7 linked regions of the Homo sapiens genome follow. The protein of the gene in region 5 interacts with the protein of the main gene of each other region in a biochemical or structural test. Each region holds a gene or a part of one and is shown on either strand. Other genes may lie near its edges.

Evidence for each region.
Region 1: the proteins of MAPK14 (region 5) and DUSP4 form a complex in vitro, tested with the Homo sapiens proteins (one study listed by BioGRID).
Region 2: of the proteins of MAPK14 (region 5) and DUSP7, one has a biochemical effect on the other in vitro, tested with the Homo sapiens proteins (one study listed by IntAct).
Region 3: of the proteins of MAPK14 (region 5) and NLRP1, one has a biochemical effect on the other in vitro, tested with the Homo sapiens proteins (one study listed by BioGRID).
Region 4: of the proteins of MAPK14 (region 5) and NRL, one has a biochemical effect on the other in vitro, tested with the Homo sapiens proteins (one study listed by BioGRID).
Region 6: of the proteins of MAPK14 (region 5) and HDAC3, one has a biochemical effect on the other in vitro, tested with the Homo sapiens proteins (one study listed by BioGRID).
Region 7: of the proteins of MAPK14 (region 5) and TFCP2, one has a biochemical effect on the other in vitro, tested with the Homo sapiens proteins (one study listed by BioGRID).

Annotation. Positions count from the first base shown.
Region 1 is NC_000008.11:29,333,685-29,337,184, forward strand, and holds part of DUSP4 (dual specificity protein phosphatase 4), read right to left. Parts: coding exon 3,342-3,500; 3' UTR 1-3,341. UniProt on the Homo sapiens protein: Regulates mitogenic signal transduction by dephosphorylating both Thr and Tyr residues on MAP kinases ERK1 and ERK2.
Region 2 is NC_000003.12:52,050,996-52,053,571, forward strand, and holds part of DUSP7 (dual specificity protein phosphatase 7), read right to left. Parts: intron 128-2,576; coding exon 1-127. UniProt on the Homo sapiens protein: Dual specificity protein phosphatase. Shows high activity towards MAPK1/ERK2. Also has lower activity towards MAPK14 and MAPK8. In arrested oocytes, plays a role in meiotic resumption.
Region 3 is NC_000017.11:5,553,510-5,557,009, forward strand, and holds part of NLRP1 (NACHT, LRR and PYD domains-containing protein 1), read right to left. Parts: intron 1,090-3,500; exon of another isoform or gene 997-1,089; intron 635-996; exon of another isoform or gene 492-634; intron 48-491; coding exon 1-47.
Region 4 is NC_000014.9:24,108,450-24,111,949, forward strand, and holds part of NRL (neural retina-specific leucine zipper protein), read right to left. Parts: intron 1-3,500. UniProt on the Homo sapiens protein: Acts as a transcriptional activator which regulates the expression of several rod-specific genes, including RHO and PDE6B. Also functions as a transcriptional coactivator, stimulating transcription mediated by the transcription factor CRX and NR2E3.
Region 5 is NC_000006.12:36,104,308-36,107,807, reverse strand, and holds part of MAPK14 (mitogen-activated protein kinase 14), read right to left. Parts: intron 354-3,500; coding exon 180-353; intron 1-179. UniProt on the Homo sapiens protein: Serine/threonine kinase which acts as an essential component of the MAP kinase signal transduction pathway.
Region 6 is NC_000005.10:141,626,850-141,630,349, forward strand, and holds part of HDAC3 (histone deacetylase 3), read right to left. Parts: intron 3,277-3,500; coding exon 3,195-3,276; intron 3,068-3,194; coding exon 3,011-3,067; intron 2,891-3,010; coding exon 2,835-2,890; intron 2,458-2,834; coding exon 2,324-2,457; intron 1,791-2,323; coding exon 1,710-1,790; intron 1,364-1,709; exon of another isoform or gene 1,339-1,363; coding exon 1,265-1,338; intron 1,109-1,264; coding exon 1,044-1,108; intron 1-1,043. UniProt on the Homo sapiens protein: Histone deacetylase that catalyzes the deacetylation of lysine residues on the N-terminal part of the core histones (H2A, H2B, H3 and H4), and some other non-histone substrates.
Region 7 is NC_000012.12:51,163,136-51,166,635, reverse strand, and holds part of TFCP2 (alpha-globin transcription factor CP2), read left to right. Parts: intron 1-3,500.

The sequences.
Region 1 (3,500 bases), on a different chromosome or scaffold from region 5:
CCCGGGGAGCTACGAAACACACTGATGCCTGAGTCCCCCACCTAGAATTGGTTGAACTGGTCTAGGAGAGCCTGGGTATCAGAACTGTATAAGTTCCCCAAGTAATTCCAATGCGGGACCATGGCTTTACTACTACAGGCTTGGTTGATGGCCAATTCCCAATCTCCAGCCTCTTCCTGTCATGTTGGAGTCAACTATCCTATGTCCCTCTCTCCATCTTCCCAAGATTTAAAAACCTTTCTCATGGCTTCCCAAATTGGAAAACTCTCTGGAATCCAGCGTGGATGAGCAACTGAACAAAATGGCTTTGGGAGGGAATGATGGGAGCTGGGGCCTACCAGTCACCTGCTCTTCAGCCTAATACTGCTCTGTGGGAAAACTTGGTCCATTTCCCCCAGGGCTCCTCAACACACACCCCTGGGTCAGACGTTCTGGGAGGGAATAGGCAGCATTCCTCACTCTACAGAACACCCAATGAGCATCCTGTCTTTCATGGCTAATACCAAAGTTGACAATCAATGAGGGTCAATGCTTTCCTGTCATTACAGAAACTTCCCATCACCAGAATCCCTTCATGGGAGGGATGGATGCCTGTTGAAACTCACTGACCTATTGGACTGACGCTGGGGTGGTATCTTCATCAGAGCTATTGTAAGTCATCCAAAAGGCTTCTGACGAAAGAACAATTTTTAAAAAGTCCCTCTTTTCAATCAAGCCAATGTCCTATTTTATTTCTAAAAGTTTTGGGACTCGTGCTGTTATCAAGTACAATGAAAATGGCTTTATAAATAGCTGTTTTGACATTGTGATAGAAGGCTTGAATTCGGAGGAAAGATGTCGCTGGAGCTAGTCCTGAGTTCCGACTGTCCCTGTGGTGGGAATCCAGTCTGGGAAAGCAGGACTGTTTTAGCAAACGTGTACTCGTTCTATAAAAATGGAATCTGTTCTGCAGGTTACCGTCCCTCCCCGCCCAAGCATCCCCTCTGTCCTGTCTCTCTGCTGCTGGGACCCAGGGCTTTTTCAGCTGCAGAACCCACTGGACTTCCAGGAATCAAGGAAAAAGTGGAAATGTCCAACTGTGTTGTCTCTAAATGGTTCCATTGTCTGGGAACTGAAACCCTCCATGCTTCACCCTGAACTGTTATTTCTAGAGGAAGCAGGGAGCCTCTGGCTCTTCTAAAAATTGCCAGTGGGAGCTCTGGCCTCACCCACAGGCGGAGCTTGGTGAAGTCAGGATGAATGATGCCGTCACAGGTTCATGGTTCATGGAAGGAAAGGTAACCAACCTTGTCCTGTCTAGGATGCCAGATGAGAAAGAGTATCCCAACGTGACGGTGACATTGAGGCTTGACGTTATTTATGGGTGAGCAAGAATGTTCATTAGATGTAGACTCTCAAAGGGCTAAAAAAAACCATGCTCTCACTTCTAGACAAGTTTGCAACAACCTCTAAGCTGGCACTCCATAACAAGACTGTTCCACAATACTACAAACAAAATAGCATGTAGCTTGTTCCCTCCTCCCTCCCCCCCAAACCCTCCCCACAGAAAACGTGTCTCCCTCCAAAGCCATTCTCCATTTAGAAAGGCCCAACTAAGGATTCAAAATGGCACCCACGTGCCGACGATAGATTCAAAATGGCGCCTGCGTGCCCATGACGCACGTCACGGGAGCCAGCGGCCAGCCCCCTCACCAGCAGTCAGCCCCAACCCCACCCTGGCGCTTTGATTTCCAGTTTGGGAAATTCATACCAATGGAATCCGATGTAAGCAATCCACCATCAGCTCACTGATGCTCTCTTGCCCTTCCACACTTCGAGAAGACCTGAAATGTGGTGTCCATTCCCCTCTTTATTCAAAAGAGGACCTTCAAAAATATTCACCTAACTAGGAATTTAAAGAACACAAGAAATTGTTGGTATATTTCACTTCAGGTAACTGCCCTAAAATTAAAACCTCCAATTTATGCAAAAAAAGAAAAGATGGTGCTTCAATTTACAAAAGGATTCATTTCAGGGTTATCTCTAGTTGTCTGGTTTCCCCAATGGCTGGCCTTGCCAAATGATTTGCTGTAGGAAAATTTGAACTGCACCCAATTTTCCAGGAGCACCTTAGTGTAATATGGCATATTGATCACAGACGATAGACAAGTCTTAGGCAGGTTTATGCAAAAAATGCTGCAACCACCCAGTGATCATCGGAGGGAAAAAAGCTTGACTTACTGTGGTCTAAAATTGCTTCGGTGGCCTACATGCCCATGAACCAGCTTCAAAAGCAATTCACATTGGTCATGATGACACACACCTGCAGTCCCAGCTACTCAGGAGGCCGAGGTGGGAGGATCTCTTGAGCCCAAGAGCTTGAGATGAGCCTTGGCAACATAGTGAGATGCTGTCTTTTTTTTTCTTTTCTTTTTTTTTAAAAAAGCAATTCAAACCTAATTCTTCCCTTTCTTCCTCCTCCCACCCAACCCGCCTGCTTCTCAAGATGAGCCTTGGCAACATAGTGAGATGCTGTCTTTTTCTTTTCTTTTTTTTTTAAAAAGCAATTCAAACCTAATTCTTCCCTTTCTTCCTCCTCCCACCCAACCCGCCTGCTTCTCAGTGGCAACAAACTCAAGTTGCTCATCATGCTACCTTGCACATATCTACAAGACACCATTTACTTCCTAACTGCCTTGACATCTGCATGCTACGGTGCTCAGCTGTTTGACATCAACATAAATATATTCTAAATCCACTGTAACTAGACTTTTTGTACTTTCATACTCTGAAGAAAGTCTTAATAAATACTTTATTATTAAGCATAATTATTCATCTGTTGGTGACTGAGAAATGAAAACCACACCTTCGAAGATTTCTTTTAAAAAATGAAATTCCTTTAACTACAACAACGACAACAAAGGGACAAGTACACAGAACCAGGCACTTCTGGGAAACTTGTCTTCTCATCCCTTTGCCCTCCCTTCCTCCCCCTTTAGTAAAGCTGGTTGGGCACATTTGCTAGGATCTGTGGGTTTCATCACTTCAAGCCTTACTGCTTAAAAAAATGAGGTAAGAAATTTCTATCGGAAAAGTGAAACTGACACATAAACCAAACCAAGGTCTTCCCTGGCTGCTGCGGCAGCCGTTATTGCTCTAAGTTGGAGTGTTCTGTTTGCTTTTATTATGTATTCGGAGTCCTTATTGCCATTCTGGCTGGCCTCGTCGTTGGCCAAGGAGAAATGATGGGGAAGGAGCTCGGTCGCCTGCTCCCAGCTGCTCAGTCCCAACTTTCTGCCCGCATGCGGCCCGTCCTACCCTTGCTGGGAGCCAGCTCTGGTTCTGGGGCCCCCAGGGCGGCTCTAACAGCTGGGAGAGGTGGTGATGGGGCTGTGCAGGTAGGGCAGGCTGCTGGGGGCCGAGTGCACGCCCACGGAGACCGGAAAGCTGAAGACGAACTGCGAGGTGGGGGTGGCGGGGGTCTTGCCCCGCTCCCGCAGGGGTCCCGAGGGGCTAGCAGC
Region 2 (2,576 bases), on a different chromosome or scaffold from region 5:
AAGTCGTAGGCGTCGTTGAGTGACAGGTTCATCTTCTGCATCAGATAGGCCACAGTGACCGTCACTGAGCGGCTGATGCCTGCCAGGCAGTGCACCAGGACACCACACTTCTTGGAGCGGGCTTCGTCTGAAACACATTGGCATGGGTCAGGGAGGTGCCTCCTTCAAGGAGCCTTCCCACATGGGTGGGCAGGTGGGGCTGGGGCACAGAGGGCAGCATGGTGGCTGGCTGGTCTTGCCCGACCCCTGAGGGACCTGGCCAAGCCCAGTGTGGGTAGGGCAGCAACTTGGAATAGAGGTCAACAGCACTGCTGTGGAGAGGGCTCTGCACACTTTAGCCCCAAGGCACTGGACACCCGTGTCTGTTTCCTCATCTATAAAATGGGCCTATTTATGCACAGTGGTCTCATAAGGACCTGAGCCAAGTGAGGGGTCAACAAACATGAACTACTGTAATGCCTGTGATCATGGCTAGTCCTACCACTGCCATGTGCGTTAACGACTGCTGTCACGGGTGTCACCTGCATCCTCTTGGGTCATCTGCACCATGGCCAGTAAGCCCATTTTATCAACGAGGAAACAGACACAGAGACAAAGTGGCAAGCCCAAGGCCACACAGAAGCTCCTCCTAGCTCAGCGCCCGCTGCTGCCAGGCCATGACCTGGGACTGGGGGCTGGGCTGGTTCTCTTGGAGCCGCTCCCATGGGTTGTCCCTGAGAGTCTTCTAGGAAAGTGGCCTGAGGGAGGCTCCTCTGGAAGGAAGTAGGTGGCCTGGCCCTGCATTTCGCTCTGCCATCTGCCCAGCTAGTCCCCAAGGCCTTAACTCCAGCTCCTAAGACACATGGACTGGGATGATGGCCACACTATCACTTGTGATGGGGCTTCATAAGTGAGGTGTGCTTAAATGGGCCCCACCCCTGCCACTTGCTAGACCTTCCTCAGGAGGCCCATGTGTCAGTGATATCTCCTACCACAGCTGACTGGATGGGGCCAACCTTCCTGTCCCCTTTCCCCTCCAACCCTCCCAGCTTCCCCCAGTGCCACCCTCAGACTCCTCTGTCTGACACATAGAAGCTCAATAAATACTGGCCGAGCTACTGAACAACTCAGTCCTGTAATCTCTCCTGGACCCCGGGGCAGCTGCCTCTCTGTGTGCCACAGCTGTGCCAGGGACATAGATTCACAAGAGGCAGCCATGGGGTCCTTGATGTCCCCACCACCCTGACTCTGAACCCTCCAGGAGCCAGGCACACAGCTAGCACGCAATCAATGCCTTCCTACAAGATGACATACGGGTTCACCCACTGTTCTTCGTTGCCTTTGTCCTGACAGAGCTTCCTCTCCCATCCCCTCCCAACCAAGGAGTAAAGCATACAGTAGGTGCTTCCTCCAGACTCAGGGACTGACAGGGGGCCCCATGGCTAAGGCACTGGGGCAGGATCATCTGGCAAGGAGACAGACATTGCAGCTTCATGAGGAGCTGTGTGGTCAGACCTCGAGATTGGGGGTGGGAAAAGGGGGTGCTGGGACCAGCCTCCAGTGGTGACACCAGGATGTGAGGAACGCCTGGCCTCCAAACCCACCTCCAGGTGATCCAAAGACAGTCTGTTTCTGCTGGCTTTATTTTTGGCCTTTTCAGGGTGTAGCTGGTGACTGATCCTGTCCCACTGACTCCTAAGGGATGCCTGGGCCTCAATTCCTTCACTTGTCAAATGAGGAAAAAGGTCCCCCTACCCAGACGGGGAGGAGCTTTCAGGAAGGATAAAGGTACCCACTAGCCAGGCCCAGCCTGGCGAAGCCTGCTTCCCTCTCTCTATTCCCCTCCCTCGTTGGGGGAGTTCAAATGCTGAGGCAGCACCCCTAGCCCTCTTGACCCAGGGGGTGGTGGGCAGGGCTGAGAAGCTCCAGGCAGCCCCAGTTGCAGCCCCTCCCCCAGGCCTCAGCTTCCTTCCTTCCTCCCAGCCAGGCACCTACTTTTGGTTCCCAGTAAGCGGATGAGGCGGGGAAGCCTCCCACTTCCTGTTGTTAAAGCTAGCCCAGCCCAGCCGACACCAAAACGCCCTCCACTGGACACAGCCACCATCGGGAAAAGACAGCCCGGGCCACCCCCACACCTTGCCACTGGAGGCTGGGCAGAAACATTGGGTCACCAGGCTCAGAGATAGAGCGTTTACATTCATCCTGAGCCCTCGTGCCCCTTCCTTGCACCCTGGGCCAGGGGAGATGACCTGTGGTCTCAGCCTCCAGCTGGCCAAGGAGAAAGCAGTGGGGACCCGAGTCTGCTGAGGCTGGGGATACAGGGACTCGAAGGGCACTAAGCCAGACAGCAGGACACACTGCTCTGGGGAAGGCCTTTCTCCACTCCCCCACCTTCTCTTGCACTCCTCCCTACACTCCAAGCAAGCCCTACAGGCTGCAGAGAGCATCTGGAGGCTGACTGAGCTAGCAGTCACCACATTTCAATAGCTGCCTGTTTGGGGTGTGCCTCTGGCTCCAGGGCTACCTTTCAGCCCTCTTAGGTCCACATTAAAGCCCAAAGAGGCACTATGACAACCCCATCCTGGAGAGACACGTGT
Region 3 (3,500 bases), on a different chromosome or scaffold from region 5:
AGAAGAGAATCTGCCAATAGGCATCTGTGACTGGGACCCACCTGAACCTGAGGGGGAGAGAGAAGGACAGGAGAGATGTGATGTGTCTGGCAGGGGTTTGAGGTGCCCAGCCCTGCACAACACAGTTGGGCTTTGTCCCCCTGAGCACCAGGCCACAGCGGGTAGTGCCATCTCCAGTACTGACCAGCCCTCCCTGCCTGTCTGCCCGTCACCCAGGGCTAGGTCCCTCTCCTCCATGTGGCTCCTCATTCTACAGCCCTTACCATAGCACACTGAAGTGTTCACCTTGTGTGTCTGTTTCTGCCTCAGTCTGGGAGTTCCTTGAGGGCAGGGACAGACATTTGTCTTTTTTTTTTTTTTTTTAAATCTGCACTGCTCAGCATAGGGCCTGGCCTCGGTGCTGAGCACTGCAGATAAGAAAAAAATTTTTTAAAAAAATTTGACAATTTTAATTTAAAAAAAATTTGACAGCCTTCCTCCCTTTGATGCAGACACACCTGTGTTCCTTTGGCACAGACATTCTGGAGTCCCAGTGCCCAGGAAAGAAGACGGGAGGCAGTAGCAGAGCCTGGGAGAGATGGCCTGAGGATGTTGTGATGGAAGACTGTATATGATCATATGCACTGCTGTCCAGGTTGGCTCACATGGGACCCTATCCCCTTCCCAGGATAACAAGAGGGTCTGCAGGAGAGGGATGGCTGTGGGGAGTGCCCTAGGAGAGAATATTTGCAGCCTGAGGGGAAGAGATGACGGGCTTTGTCTGAGGGTGTTAGAGTAGACTCCGACTCATGGAATTTCCACCCATTTAATCTGTTTTCACACACTACTTTAGTGACCTCATCTACCTCCAAGGCTTCAACTACTCAAATCTCTATTCCAAGTTTCAGACTGAGTTTTCTATTTTCTGGTTGGATATCCCCACCTTGACATCCCAGTAATTCTTTGATCTAATTTGTCCCAACAAGTCCCCAACCTGAATTCATCTTTTCCCCTAAGTCTGCAGAGCCATGTGGGGGCAAGAAGCAGAGGCAAGGAGCTGCCTGCATGTGGGCTCTGCTTCTCTATCCCTCACTCCGTCTCCTCCGCTGCAAAAAGAGGACAGCAATAGCACCTGCTGCAGAGGGGTATGTGAGAATTAAAAGCTACTAAAGAGTATCCCAAAAGTCCTAGAGCAGTTTTAAGTTTTAATAACTGTGAAAGTACAAGTACTACAAACATATAAAAAAAGCCAGCTGAGTGCAGTGGCTCTAGCCTGTAATCCCAGTACTTGAGGAGGTAGAGGCAGGAGGATCGATTGAGCCCAGGAGTTTAAGACCAGCCTGGGCAACATAGTAAGATCCTGTTTCTACAAAAAATAAAAAAAATTAGGCAATGTGGTGGTGTGCACCTGTAGTCCCAGCTACTCAGGAGGCTGAGGCAGGAGAATGGCTTGAACCTGGGAGGCCAAGGTTGCAGTGAGGTATGGTCATGCCACTGCACTATTCCTGGGAGACACAGTGAGATCCCATCACACACACACACACACACACACACACACACACACACACGAAAAAAAGCCATAAATGAAAGCTTACTTGAATTTCTTTTACACTTACTTAGTTTTGTGAAACTTGAAAAATACATTTTAAATTTTTTATTTCCGTTGGCATTTGCCATCCTTAATCAAGGTGACTGAAAAAAAATTAAAAATTTATACTTGAAAATGCACAATGCTTAATCACATGCCAAACACCTGGAAGCTCCCATCCTGTCATCTTCATTTCTTTAATATCTCTGGTTGGTTCTCCTCTTCCTTCACACAGCCCTTGGCCAACCTCCACCCTTTCTTCCTGAACTTTCTTGTTTTTTTTATAGTAGCTTCCTTATTCTTCTCTCTGCCTTGTCTAGCTGATTCAGTTCCTTGAAAATTTCTCCTCCCACTTGTGGCTGAAGCCTCTGACTTTCCCACGGCATTCTCTTAAGGCTCCACTTGCTCCCGCCCATCCCAAACTCTCCTCTCTGGCCTGGTGTTCTTGGTTCCCTTTGCCTATCCCAGCCCCCATCCCCCGGCCAGCCACCATCTGGTCTCTGCCTCTAGCTGCTTGGAACTCTTTGAAGATTTCCCACCTGTCCACTGCTACTTGCAGTACCTGTATCCAGGTCCTTTAAAGCCTACCTCACATTTATAACTATGAACAACTAGAAGCAGCTTAAAATGGCCAAGAACAGGAGAATGGTCAAATCAGCCATGGCACTTTCCCTATGGAATAGCATGTGGTCATTCAAAATGGTGTTGTATCAGACTACTTAAAAATATATAAAGGGCTGGCATGGTGGCTCATGCCTGTGATCCCAGCACTTTGGGAGGCTGAGGCAGAAGGATCATTTGAGGTCAGGAGTTCAAGACCAACCTGGCCAACATGGTGAAACCCCGTTTCTACTAAGACGACAAAAAATTAGCTGGGTGTGGTGGTGCGTGCCTGTAATCCCAGCTACTCTGGAGGCTGAGGCATGAGAATTGCTTGAACCTGGGAGGCAGAGGTTGCAGTGAGCAGAGATCGTGCCACCGCATGCCAGCCTGGTGACAGAGCAAGACTCTGTCTGTCTCTGTCTCTGTCTCTCTCTCTACACACACACACACACACACACACACACACACACACACACACACACATGAAGGGCTGGGCATGGTGGCTCACATCTGTGATCCCAGCACTTTGGGAGGTCAAGGTGAGCAGCTTGCTTGAGCCCAGGAGTTTGAGACCAGCTTGGTCAACACAGTGAAATCTCATCTCTATACAAAAAATATACAAAAATTATCGCTGCATGTTGGCATGCTCCTGTAGTCTCAGCTCCTAGCGGGGCTGAGGTAAGAGGATCCCTTAAACTCGGGTGGTCCAGGCTGCAGTGAGCTGTGATTGCACCACTGCACTCCAGCCTAGGGGACAGAGCGAGACTCCGTCTCAGACAACAACAAACCAAAAAAAAAAAAAAATACCCCACACCCACTCACAAGAAGATAGCCTTGATATATAAAGAAAATAAAACTGACTATAAAATAAAATGTACAATATGGTTCGATTTCGCCATAGACATGTGCACAGAAAAAAGACTGGGGTTCTTACAATTGACCACTAATTTTTTTTTTTTTTGAGACTGAGTTTTGCTCTTTTTCCCAGGCTGGAGTGAAGTGGCACAATCTCAGCTCACTGCAACCTCTGCCCCTGACCTGTCAAGTGATTCTCCTGCCTCAGCCTCCTGAGTAGCTGGGATTACAGGCGCCTGACACCATTTTCGGCTAATTTATGTATTTTTAGTAGAGATGGGGTTTCACCATGTTGACCAGGCTGGTCTCGAACTCCTGACCTCAGGTGATCCACCTGCCTCGGCCTCCCAAAGTGCTGGGATTACAGGTGTGAGCCACCACACCCAGCCAATTTTTAATGATGGTTATTACAGAATGATGGAATTCTTATTGATACTATTTTTCATCTTTTTGCTTATCTACGTTATCTTTTGTT
Region 4 (3,500 bases), on a different chromosome or scaffold from region 5:
GCCTCAGCCTCCCGAGTAGCTACAGGTGTAAGCCACCACACCTGGCTAATTTTTTTTTTTTTTTTAGAGATGGGGTCTCACTATGTTGCCCAGGCTGGTCTTGAACTCCTGGTTTCAAGCAATCCACCTGCCTCAGCCTCTCAAAGTGCTGGGATTACAGGTGTGAGCCACTACCCCGGGCCACTAAAGGGTATTTACTTATATTACATCTATAGCTCCTACCCTACACACAGAAAAATCTGATTCTTACAGACACAAGACATGAGAGTATTAGAACATCCCATAGTTACTTAGTGGCTTTCTAGTCAACACATTTTAAGTCCCTAGGTAAATTATTAGCACACTCTCCATTTCCATCGACACAGAGAATACTATAAGGCAATGTTCAAACACATGTATGAGCATCAGTCACTCCAAACACGGAACTGTCCCAGGAGCTCTGTGTGGTCACCAAGCTGGGAGCTGCAGTAGAGGAGAGGAGGACAGGGTTAGCTAGAGAATGAAAACACTCCTTTCCTTCTCTCCTCAGCAGCCCAGCCTGCCCTCTAGTGGAGATGCTAATGAGCAGGAAACAGGCCAAGACAGGTCAGGCAGGAAGTCAACTAGCTGACATTTACTTAGCAATTACCAGAAATTGTCCTAAAATGGGTGCTGAAGGTAGAAAAACCTCTCTGTGGCTTTAAGTGACTTTAAGTGCAACTGGAGAGAGTAGAGGTTACCCAAATGAAAAGTGCTTCACAAACTGTAACCACGCAACGTACCAAATTTCAAAATCAAGACAGCATAGGCAAAATTTAGTCTATCAAAATGACTTCACCATAATTATTTTTAAAGATATGCCATTTTATTTATTTCAATAGACACACTGTATACCCTAAGATATAAATGCTCTTACACATTTTGAAAAACATTACAGGTCATAGTGAGATAATCAAGTTCATAGGCTTAAAAATCTTTTATATGCTGCCAGGCGTGGTGGCTCACACCTGTAATCCCAGCACTTTGGGAGGCCTAGGTGGTCAGATCATGAGGTCAGGAGATCGAGACCATCCTGGCTAACATGGTGAAACCCCGTCTCTACTAAGAAAAATACAAAAAATTAGCCGGGCATGGTGGCGGGCGCCTGTAGTCCCAGGTACTCGGGAGGCTGAGGCAGGAGAATAGCATGAACCCGGGAGGCGGAGCTTGCAGTGAGCCGAGATCGGTCCACTGCACTCCAGCCTGGGTGACAGAGCAAGACTCCATCTCAAAAAAAAAAAAAAAAAATCTTTTATACGCAAAAAAATTAATCAATGAATCCAGTGATTAATCTTATATTCTTTCCCATGTGATGTGAAGGACTCAATTTTGTCATAAAACCTCAGTTATTTTAACATTTACCATGACTTTTAAATGTTTTACTCAATAATGTACAAGTTCCATATTACAAAAGCTTGAATTAAAAGATTTTATTCAGGTTTAAACTAATTTGTAAGAAGAAGAGAAAAGAGAATCAAAAAATGAATTGTTAAGGAGATAAGTTTAACAGAAGTTTTTTGTTCGTTTTTCTGGACCTCAGGTGCTATAGCTGTATTCATCATAATCCTTTGTAGAAGCTACACCTTTGTCACCAGTTCATGCAAGCCCTCCCCACTTTGTTTAATGATGTAATGAGCTGGGTATTATTATACTTTTTTTTTTTTTCTTTGAGACGGGGTCTCATTCTCGCCCAGGCTGGATGAAGTGCAGTGGCGCAATCATGGCTCACTGCAGCCTTGACCAGACTCAGGTGATCCTTCCACCTCAGCATCCTGGGTAGCCAAGACTACAGGCCCAGCTCAATTTTGTTTTTGTATTTTTCGTAGAGATGGGGTTTCGTCACATTGCCCAGGCTGATCTCAAATTCCTGTGGTCAAGCGAGCTGCCCGCCTCAGCCTCTCAAAGTACTGGGATTACAGGTGTGAGCTACCACGCCTATTATACTTTCTAATGAAAAAATGAAACCACATCGTTTTTGCATCTATTACATGTCACCAGAAGAAATGATTATCTTTATTTTTTTAACTTGACAATGTAGTTTGCACAATTTCCTATGGTATAAAAATAGAAGGCTACAACAAACCTATACCAGGAATAGGTACCTTAAAAAAAAATTGAAGACTACAACACCATTTTAATAGCTACCTGGTATTTCTGTGTCTATACTACATGGACCATAATTTATTTAACAATCCCATATTGCAAGATATTTAGATCTTTGTTTCCAGTGTTCCACTTTTATCAATAATTGCTATGTAGAACATAAATTTTTATGCATGTCCGGCCTAGATTTCTGGAAGCAGTATTACTGGGTCAAAGTGCAAGGCTGTGAGGAAGGGAGTTTTGTAGACAGCTTCCCTCTAATAAGAAATTCTCCTGGGAAGGTGCAGAGGTAAAAATAAACAAGCTATTTATTGGCATATTTGCTTAGCAGAAATATCAAAAAATGAGGTTACTAAAAATAGACATCCAGGTTTGGAAGTTTGTATTTGAAACAATGAACAATAGTGAGCCATTTGTTGATTTTCTTTTAGAGACAGTCTTTAGCTCTATCCCCAGGCTGGAGTACAGTGGAGCAATCATGGCTCACTGCAGCCTCCACCTCATAGGCTCAAGATTCCCTCCTTCATCCTTCCCAAGTAAGTTGGGACCATAGGCACGCGCCACGATGGCCGGCTATTTTTTTTTTCTTTTTGTAGACTGGGTCTCACTATGTTGCCCAGGCTGGCCTTGAACTCCTGGCCACAAATGATCCTCCTCCTCGGCCTCCCACAGTGCTGGAATTACAGTCGTAAGCCACCGTGCCCAGCTCACTTGTGCGTTAAGCACTAAATGCTGTTAGAGGAGGATTCTTCAGCAGATCAACTACCGGAAGAGGCATAGGTGTTTTTTGTTTGGTTGGTTGATTGTTTTTTGTGTGTGTGTGACGGAGTTTCGCTTTTGTAGCCCAGGCTGGAGTGCAGTGGCGTGATCTCGGCTCAATGCAACCTCCACCTCCCGGGTTCAAGCGATTCTCTTGCCTCAGCCTCTCGAGTGGCTGGGATTACAAGCGCATGCCACCACACTCGGCTTTTTTTTTTTTAGTGACGGGGTTTCACCATGTTGGCCAGGCTGGTCTCGAACTCCTGACCTCAGGTGATCCACCCGCCTTGGCCTCCCAAAGTGCTGGGATTACAGGCGTGAGCCACCGCGCCCGGCCAATTTTTTTAAAAAATGATTCCGTCCTGAGACTTTGCTGAAGTTGCTTATCAGCTTAAGGAGATTTTGGGCTGAGACGATGGGGTTTTCTAGATAAACAATCATGTCGTCTGCAAACAGGGACAATTTGACTTCCTCTTTTCCTAATTGAATACCCTTTATTTCCTTCTCCTGCCTGATTGCCCTGGCCAGAACTTCCAACACTATGTTGAATAGGAGCGGTGAGAGAGGGCATCCCTGTCTTGTGCCAGTTTTCAAAGGGAATGCTTCCAGTTTTTGCCCAT
Region 5 (3,500 bases):
TATCTCAAAGGTCCAGAGAGTATCACTGTCTACAACAGTTTCCACCAGAGAACATATTCATTCTGCATTAGAGACCTCATCTACAAGCTTTAGCAAGTTGGTTATGACCATTCAGTTTTTATTTTTCCCACCGCTTTTGGTTAGTGGTTCAAGATGTTAATCCTACCCTTAGGACTTACTTTTCCACTCATCTATAAGGAGGTCCCTGCTTTCAAAGGACTGATCATAAGGATCGGCCACTGGTTCATCATCAGGATCGTGGTACTGAGCAAAGTAGGCATGTGCAAGGGCTTGGGCCGCTGTAATTCTCTTATCTGAGTCCAATACAAGCATCTTCTCCAGCAAGTCGACAGCTATCAGTACCATAGACAGGAAGGAAAAGAGTTTTTAACATGTTACAAAAAAGTATGCCTTATTGAGCAAACATAGTTTTGACCCTTCATATCCAAACAAAGAACTCTCCTCCAAAATACCTACTCTAGGATATATTAGCCCTCTTCTCCTTTATGTGTGTATGTGTGTGTGTGTGTGTGTGTGTATCTGTATTTTCTATGTTTTAAAATTTTTTTATTTTATTTTTGATTTGGGGGTACATGTGCACATTTGTTACATGGGTCTCACCACGGACTGATGGGGACTGGGCTTCTAGCGTGCCCATTAACCAAATAGTGAACATTGTACCCGATAGGTTATCTCTCAACCCTCACCCTCCTCCTGTATTTTGTATTTTTAAAGAATATGTTACTAAAGAAGAATTTTTTTAAATGACTGGGATTCTGTTTGAACAGGCTTTTGTGGACCGTCAATGTCAAACTGCTACCAGTGTAGTCAAACTGTATAAAACAAAGCCTACAGCTGAAGTAACCTACAATAGGTAGGCAGGGCTGTTTTTTTTTTGTCCCCCTAAGCTGTTTATTTACTAACATCAAATATTCATCAACAGATCTTCAAACAGTGAATAAACTGGGGGTTTTACATGGTGATGAGGGTGAGACATGGTATTAAAATCAAAGGGAATTTTATTTTTAAAAATTTCACTATGAAAAATTTCAAATATACAGAAACAGAAAAGTAAAAACTATGATAAAGTGAACACTCATATGCCTAGCATATTCAACAATTAACATTTTTATATTTCTGTATTTATATGTATTTTTTTCTGAACTGTTTTAAAATAAAATTATAGACATGACACTTTACCCTCCCCAAATATTTCAACACGAAGACATCTTCCTATATAATCATAATACTGTTATTATCTCTGACAAATAATTTCTAAATATCATCTAAAATCCAGTTCATGTTAAGATTTCTCCAATTATTCCAACGTTGTCTTTTAGAACTAGTTTGTTGAAACCAGGATTCAATTAGGGGCCATGCACTGCAACTGACTGGTTTTCTTTAGTCTCTCTTAGTCTAGAATAATCTTCTTACTTCTAAGCCCTGTTCTTTCCTGATTTTGATCTAAAGAGACCCTCTGATTGTCCTGAGAATGACCGTTTCTCGGGATGTGTCTGATTTTGCTTCTTTTGCTGTCATGTGTCTATACCCTGCTTTCCACTATCCCCTGTACTTCCCAAAAACCGGAAGTTAGGTCAAAAATTTTGGTAAGAATCAGGTTAAACATTTTCAGCAAAAATACAGGTGATGCTGTGCACGTGACAGTGCATTAAGGCCATCTGTCCCACTACTAATGAGCTAAAATTGATCACTGGGTTAAGATGTTTCCCCTTTGACCAAAGCAAGTAATCTGCGGGATATTTTGGTACCAAGTAAATATCCATTCTTTTCACTTATGGCTTTCTGCATTCACTGGGTTTCCTTCCCAAAAGCAATTATTTCATAAGGGGTTACAAAATGGTAATTTGTCTAACTCTATATTTCAAATGAGTATTTTTGTGTTTCAGCATGGTGGCACTTGGGAGAATAAATACTGCCATATAACCAGTTATCACTGTGGTGAAAAAGGCTTTTGAGACTTTGCAAATTACTCCTTAAATGTGGAGGGTGTGGGGGTGAGTAGTGAAGAGGACAGCTTCCTATAGAGATCTACTGCTGTGTATATTGGAGGCTGTAAAACACCCGTCCTACAGCTTGAATTCCAGAGTAATCCACTGGAGAAATATGGGCTTCAAGGGGATACAGAAACAAAGTAAATATTCATGTGTCAATTCAAGTTCATAAGTTTACACTTTACAGTACTAGGTGAATGCCTGGATTATATATATATATATTCTTCTGATGGTCTTCTCTTCTTAGAAAAAGAAACCTTATCAGCTGTTGATTTTATAATTGAACACAGATTATACGACAAGTCTCTGTTACCCTTAGGGTAAAAAGGACCATGTTCTTATAACCAATAAGGTCAGGGGCAAGAACAAATTCCTCAAAGATCTTATTAGCTGGGCATGGCATTATGTGCCTGTTGTCTCAGCTACTTGGGATAGGGAAGAGGAAGGATCACTTAAACACAAGAGTTCGAGGTTATCATGAACCGTGACTGTGCCACTGTACTCTAACCTGGGTGACAGAGTGAGATGCCATCTCTTAAAAAAAAAAAATCTTGACAGATAAATACATACACTAACATCAAGGGGTAATTTAAGTTTTAATTCATGTTTTGGGAATAGCAGTGAAACAAAGTCAGTGGCTGACAAAACAGAGCTGTTAATATTTATATTTCTGGCATGTTCCTGCTCAGTTAATATGCTGGGCACGAGCTTGTGATAGTAACACTGTGCTCCATCTGCCCAGCAAGGGGAGCCTCATTATATGACATCACTGTTTGGCAATGGGCTGTAAGGCACGTTTAAATGCTGAGAAGTACAGTGCTGAGCACCAGATGGACCAAAGCCTCCTTTCAACTCATTAGCAAAGTGGTATCTAGTTCTTTTGGAGGTTTCAATGTCATGATTTCAAAGAATGGGAAGACCTATCAGGAGGTATGTGACCTAAATAAGCTGCTGGAACACAAATATCTCCCCTCTCCCCCTAAAAAATGAATTAACACATCTTTCTGAGTCTGTTAAGAGGGTGTCAGTGAGTACTGCCCTGTTCAAAACTTAAGGCTTATAAAATGAAACAACTTCAGAACAGAATGACGACAAGAAAGAACACGACGGGCTGGGTGCAGTGGCTCATGCCTGTAATCCCAGCACTTTGGGAGGCCGAGGCGGGCAGGTCACGAGGTCAGGAGATCGAGACCATCCTGGCTAACACGGTGAAACCCCGTCTTTACTAAAGATACAAAAAATTAGCCAGGTGTGGTGGCACACACTTGTATTCCCAGCTACTCAGGAGGCTGAGGCAGAAGAATCACTTAAAGCCGGGAGGTGGAGCTTGCAATGAGCCGAGATCGCACCACTGCACTCCAACCTGGACGACAGAGCGAGACTCTGTCTCAAAAAAAAAAGGAAAGAAAGAACACAACATCTTTTCCCAACATCCTGTAGTACTTAAGGCTCAAAGAGAGCTTCTCACAGACCCTTGAACTAGATAAT
Region 6 (3,500 bases), on a different chromosome or scaffold from region 5:
ACCCCCTCCACCTTAGTCTGGGCACCTAACCAACACCATGGCTTCCTAACTGGTCTTTCTACTTCCATCTCCATCCCCCCTACCCAAACCTTTCTCTATTCAGCAGTCAGAATTGTCACTTTCAAACACAAATTGGATCATGTCACTTTCCTGCTTAAAATCCTTCAATGGTTTCCCATCATCTTTGGAATATAATTCAAACTCCTTACCAGGGTTTAAAGGCTCTGCACAATCTCACCATGGCCAGCTTCTCGGACCTCACCTCAACAGACTGAAGTCCAGTGGCACAATCATAGTTCACTGTAACCTCAAACTCCTAGGCTCAAGTGATCCTCCTGCCTCAGCTTCCTGAGTAGCTAGGACTATAGGCATGCACCATCATGCCCAGCTGATTTTGTTTTTTATTTTCTGTAGAGATGGCTCTCACTATGTTGCCCAGGCTGGCCTCAAACTCCTAGCCTCAGGCGATTCTCCCACCTTGGCCTCTGGAAGTGTTGGGATTATAGGTGTGTGCCACTGGGCCCAGCCCTCAGAGCCTTTTGTGGGCCTTTGTCCATGCTTGGGTCAGGCTTCTCTCTGCTCCTCTTATGACTCACTCCTTCTTAGTCTCCAGGTCTCAACTCAAATTTTACTTCCTCAGAAAAACTTTCCGAAACCATGCTATCTCAAGTAGGTCCCCCATTGTATCCTGTGTCTCAGCTTTCTTTTTTTCTTTCACAGAATTTATAAGAATCTATTTATTTCATTTGATTATTTATTTTTTGTCTGTTTCCTAAACTGTAAACTCCATGGGAGACTCCTTATTCCATCCCCATGATGTGGTATGATGCCTGGAACATAACAGGTGCTTAATAAAAATATATCGTGAATGAATGACCATCTAGGGAACCCTGTTCAAGATGACATTTCTAGTTCAAGTACAATTTGTAGCTATTTTTGATTTCCAAGAAGAGGTGAGGCCCATTCCCCAACTACCCCCACCCACGTACTGAAGTCCAAGGCCACTTAAAAACCTTGGGGAGAAGAAGGAGAGCAAGTCTCACCCATGCCCTCGGATGCTGAGGTTAAAGCAGCCCAATCGATCACAGCCCAGAGAGTCAGCTCCACACTGCAAAAAGCAAAACCCCAGGAAAGTGCAGTGATCAGAACTGATCAGAACATCACAGATACCCCTTCCACCACCAACCTAAAGAACCTCCTCTTCCCTTGCTCTCTTTCCCCAAGCCCAGGCAGAACACTCCTGAGGAGGAACTGACAGTATTACCTGGAGCACAATGCACGTGGGTTGGTAGAAGTCCACTACCTGGTTGATAACCGGCTGGAAAAGGTGCTTGTAACCTGGGAGAGGGCCAAAGATGGGCACCTGGCACCCCAAGGGGATGGGGAGACAGGGAACAAAAGGAAAAAGGGGGTTGAGCGAGCATGTAGCCCAGGAAAGGGGCCACCCAAAAGAATCAAATCACTGGTCTGAAACTTCTGGAAGGGATCCCAGACTGCTATGAGTGACTGATGAAAGCCAATGACTTTTCCCAGAAAAATGCACATACACATGATATGTTGCATACAATTTCCAGAGATTCATGGTCCCTCTGAAGGCCATTCATCCTTAAGGACAACTGGCCCAACAGCAGACAATACCAGGCAGAAGAGGTTATTTCAAGGAGAAAAAGAAGGGGCCTAGGGAACAGAGGGAAGACTTCGGTACTTACTCTGGTCATCAATGCCATCCCGCAGGGGCACGTTCAGACAGTAGTAGCGGCCACTCTCTGCCCCGACTTCATACATGTCACCTGTAGGGAAGTGGGTGGTGGTAGCCACACATGGGAAGCACCCACAACCCAGCTGTTTCAGCCCCAATCTGCACTCTGGGAGCCTCTCATTCCATCTATGTAGCTTCACCATAAACTCCCTAGAGCCACTAAATCTCTTGCAGCTTGCATTCATTGGGCAAATAGTTTTGGGGGATCCACTCTGAGCCAACTGTGTACTAGGCAGTAGGGATGCAGCAACGAATGGAACTAATGAAATTTACGATATCCCACCACGCTTATATTCTTAGGGAATAGCCATGAGGAGGAGGGAGGCAGTAAACAAAACAAAACAAAAAACCACAATAAACACAAATAGCAGTGAGTGTTCTGAGGGAAACAATGAGGCTGATGTAACAGAGGAATGGGGAAGGAGGTGATTATGATAACTGGAGTGGTAAGGAAAGGCTTCTCTGAGGAGGGGACACCTGAGATGAGACTAGAAGGCTGAGAAGGAGGCACTCATAGTAAAGAGCTGAAGGGTGCAAAGGGGAAAGTAATCCCTATTCCCATACCTGTGCCAGGGAAGAAGTAATTTCCGTATTTGTGGAAGGACACCGTCATGACCCGGTCAGTGAGGTAGAAAGCTTCTTGAACCCCGTCACCATGGTGGATGTCAATGTCAATGTAGAGCACCCGAGGGTGGTACCTAGAGGGAAGCCAAAGCCAGGGTCTGAGCTAGAAGTGAACCCCCCAACCCACTCCTCTCAAACACCGGGTCTCGAATTGTGAAGAGTCTGCTTCTGCCCTGGTCACCTGAAACTTAATGTCACCAGTTCCCTAAAGGCAACTGGGGGCTCCAGCCTAGAGGCTAGAGGCAGGGACAGGAGAGGGATATGCAGAGAAGGCTGAAATGTGAGCAGGCAGTAGGGAATCTGCAGCAGTGGAAGAGGCAGCCTGAATAAAGCATCAAGAACTTGGGAGAAGCTAATCAGGGAGGAGGGAGGTCAAGGTCAGGGTTGAGACTGAGAGACCTCCTCAGCCAAGAATCCCGTAACTGCCCCCATCTCCTCCTGGGCTACTTACTTGAGCAGCTCCAGGATGCCAATCACAATGTCGTTGACATAGCAGAAGCCAGAGGCCTATGGCAAGACAGTGGTCTCATAAAGAGAAGAGCAATTCCCCTCCCAGCTGCCCCCCACCATCATCCTAAACACCTACCCTAGGATGGCCACTGTCTTTCCCATCACCTCCTCACTCACCTCAAACTTCTTGGCATGGTGCAGACCACCAGCCCAGTTAATGGCAATATCACAGATCTGAAAGACAAACACCTAAGTCACAGTCCTTCCTGCCCACCCCTCAAGCTGGGAGCCCAGGATCAGGGTTAAATCCCGAGTCCAGGGATCCAGAGGAAAGGAAGAACAGGACTCGGGACTATGTCACCTTGTTGTTCAGCTGGGTTGCTCCTTGCAGAGATGCGCCTGTGTAACGCGAGCAGAACTCAAAGAGCCCGGGAAACACTGGGCTGCAGGGAAGAGGAACAAGTTGGAACCCTCCTGCCTCTGTCTGGGCCCTTCCCATATCTCCCTCCCCATCCTAGATTCCTCCAATCTCCATTTTTCAAGAACCTTCTCTCCCTCTCCTACACACGTGGGCTATCTGCAAATTTATTCAACAAATATTTTGGACCAAACCATGTACCAAGCCCTGTGCAAGGCACTGGATGGGAAGTAAAGAAGCACTTAACTG
Region 7 (3,500 bases), on a different chromosome or scaffold from region 5:
CTTCATAGGCCATGTGCAGAAAATGGCAGTGTTAACATGATCTAAGTGTGGAGTTTTTGTCCCTCTGACATGAAAAGGTCACTTTTTGGGCACTCATGCAGGTCCAGTTGAGGGATTGGTGGTCTCAACTGGGTAAGAGCTGTCCCCTAATTCCTGAAAAACAACTTTAAGCATCTGTTAATATAGTGACCCACAGTCAGAGATGTCATCTTTTTTTTCTTTCCTTTTTTTTTCTTTTGAGGCAGGGTCATGCTATGTTGCCCAGGCTGTTCACAGATGTTAACTTTTATTTATTTATTATTTATTATTATTATTATTTTTTGAGATGGAGTTTTCGATCTTGTTGCCCAGGCTGGAGTGCAATGGCATGGTCTCAGCTCACTGCAACTGCCTCCCAGCTTCAAGCGATTCTCCTGCCTCAGCCTCCCAAGTAGCTGGGATTACAGGCACATACCACCACACCCAGCTAATTTTTGTATTTTTAGTAGAGACGGGGTTTCACCATGTTAGCCAGGCTGGTCTCAAACTCCTGACCTCAGGTGATCCACCTGCCTTGGCCTCCCAAAGTGCTGGGATTACAGATGTGAGCCACCATGCCTGGCCAACTTCTTTGTTTGTTTGTTTGAGATGGGGTCTCACTCTGTTGCCCAGGCTGGAGTGCAGTGGCATGTTCATGGCTCACTGCAGCTTCGAACTCCCGGGGATCAAGCAGTCCTGCCTCAGCCTCCTGAGTAGCTGGGACTACAGGCATGTGCCACCATGCCCTACTCAGAGTTTTTCATAAATGCCGTTTTAGTGTTAAATAAGTTTCCTTCTATTCCTAGTTTGCTGAATATGTGTGTATGTGTGTGTTTATTGTGGTAAAATACACATAACATAAAATTCTATCATTTTAACCCTTTAAAAATGTCCAGATCAGTGTAATTAAGTACATTTACGTTGTTGTACAACTGTCACCATGATCTGTCTTCAGAACTTTTTCATCCCAAAGTGAAATGCTGTACCTATTAAACACTAACTTCCCATCTCCCCCCACTCCAGCCTCTGGCAACCACCATTCTACTTTCTGTGTCTATGAATTTGACTACTCTAAAAACCTCATATACGTGGGATCATATATTTGTCCTTTTGTGACTGACTTATTCACTTAGCATAATGTCTTTGAACTTTTGCTGAGTGTTTTTTTTTTTAATCTTAAAAGGGTATTGAATTTTTTCAAATATCTTTTCTGTGTCTGTTGAGATGATAATGTGGTGTATCACATTGATTGATTTCCTTATGTTGAACCACTCTTGCATTCCTGGGATAAATGTTGGTCATGGTATATAATCTTTTTAATGTACTGTTGGATCCAGTTTGCAGTTTGCTGTTATTTTCTTGAGGATTTTTATTTCTATATTCATATGGGATATTGGTTTATAGTTTTCTTATCATGTCTTTTTTTTAAGAGACCAAGTCTCCCTATGTTGCCCAGGCTGGTCTTGAACTCCTGGACTCAAGGGATCTTCCTGCCTCAGCCTCCCAAAGTGCTAGGATTACAGGTGTGAGCCACCATGCCCAGCCTGAATTTTATCGTATCTTTTTCTGGCTTTGGTGTCAGGGTGATGTTGGCCTCATAGAACGTTAGGAAGTGTTCCATTCTTTTCTGTTTTTTGAAGGAGTTCGAGTAGGATTGGTGTTAATTCTTTGAATATTTGGTAGAATTTGCCAATGCAGCCATGTGATACTGGACTTTTCTTTGTTGGGAGGTTTTTGTTTATCAATTCAATCTCTTATTATAGGTTTGTTGAGACTTTTAATTTTTTCTGAGTCAGTTTTGGTACTTTAATGTTTCTAAAAATTTGTCTCTTTTATCTAAATTATCTAATATGCTGGTTTAGTCATTCACAGTATTCTCTTATAATCCTTTCATTTATATAAAATTAGTAGTAATATCCCCAGCTTCATTTCTGATTTTATTTATTTTCATTTCATCTTCTTTCTTTTTCTCCCAGTCAGTCTGACAAGAGTTTGTTAATTACTTTTTTTTTTTTTTTTTCGAGATGGAGTCTTGCTGTGTCACCCAGGCTGGAGTGCAGTGGCATGATCTCAGCTCACTGCAACCTCCACCTCCCAGGTTCAAGCAATTCTCCTGCCTCAGCCTCTCCAGTAGCTGGGATTACAGGTGCCTGCCACCGTGCCCAGCTAATTTTTGTATTTTTAGTAGAGACAGGGTTTTACCATGTTGACCAGGCTGGTCTTGAACTCCTGACCTTGTGATCTGCCCGCCTCGGCCTCCCAAAGTGCTGGGATTACAGGCGTGAGCCACCATACCCGGCCAAGAGTTTGTAAATTCTGTTGATCTTTTTAAATAACAAATTTTTGGTTTCGTTGATTCTACTATTTTTATTCTTCTTGGTTTTTGTGGTTGTTGTTGTTTGTTTGTTTTTGAGAAATGGGGCCGTGCTCTGTTACCCAGGCTGGAATGATGCAGTGGTGTGATCATATGCACTGCAACCTCAAACTGCTGGGCTCAAGTGATCCTCCTACCTCAGCCTCCTGAGTAACTGAGACTACAGGCATGCATCACCAAACCCAGCTAATTTTTTTTTTAATTTCATAGAGATGGGGTCTCACTGTCTTGCCCAGGCCTTGAACTCCTGGCCTCAAGCGATCCTCCTGCCTCAGCCTCCCAAAGCGCTGGGATTACAGGTGTGAGGTACTGCACCTGCCTTATTTTTATTCTTTATTTCACTTATCTCTGCTCTAAACATTGTTATTCCCTCCCTTTGGTTGGGTCCAGTTTGTGCTTCTTTTTCTAGTTCCTTAAGGTCTGAAGTTAGAGTATTGACTTAAGGTCTTTCTTTTTTTTATCTCTGTTTTTATTTTTATTTTTTGTAGAGATGGGGGTTTCACTATGGTGCCCAGGCTTGTCTTGAGCTCATGGGCTCAAGCGATTCTCCCACCTCAGCTTCCCAAAGTGTTGGGATTAAAGGCATGAGCCACCATACCCTGCCTTCTTTCTAATATTTTATTATTGTTATTATTATTTATTTATTTATTTTTTGAGACAGAGTCTCGCTCTGTTGCCTGGGCTGGAGTACAGTGGCGTGATCTTGGCTCACTGCAACCTCTGCCTCCCAAGTTCAAGCGATTCTCCTGCCTCAGCCTCCCAAGTAGCTGGGATTACAGACATACACCACCACACCCAGCTAATTTTTGTATTTTTAGTAGAGACAGGGTTTTGCCACATTGGTCAGGCTGGTCTTGAACTCCCAACTTCAGGTGATCTGTCCGCCTTGGCCTCCCAAAGTGCTGGGATTATAGGCGTGAGCCACCGCGCCCGGCCTTATTACTATTATTTTTTAAGACAGGGTCTTGCTCTGTTGCCCAGGCTGGGGTGCAGTGGCACCATCACAGCTTTCACTTTCCAGATTCAGGCAATCCTCCCACCTCAGTCTCCCAAGTAGCTGGGACCATAGGCTCGTGCCACCATGCCTAGCTAATTTTTGTATTTTTTG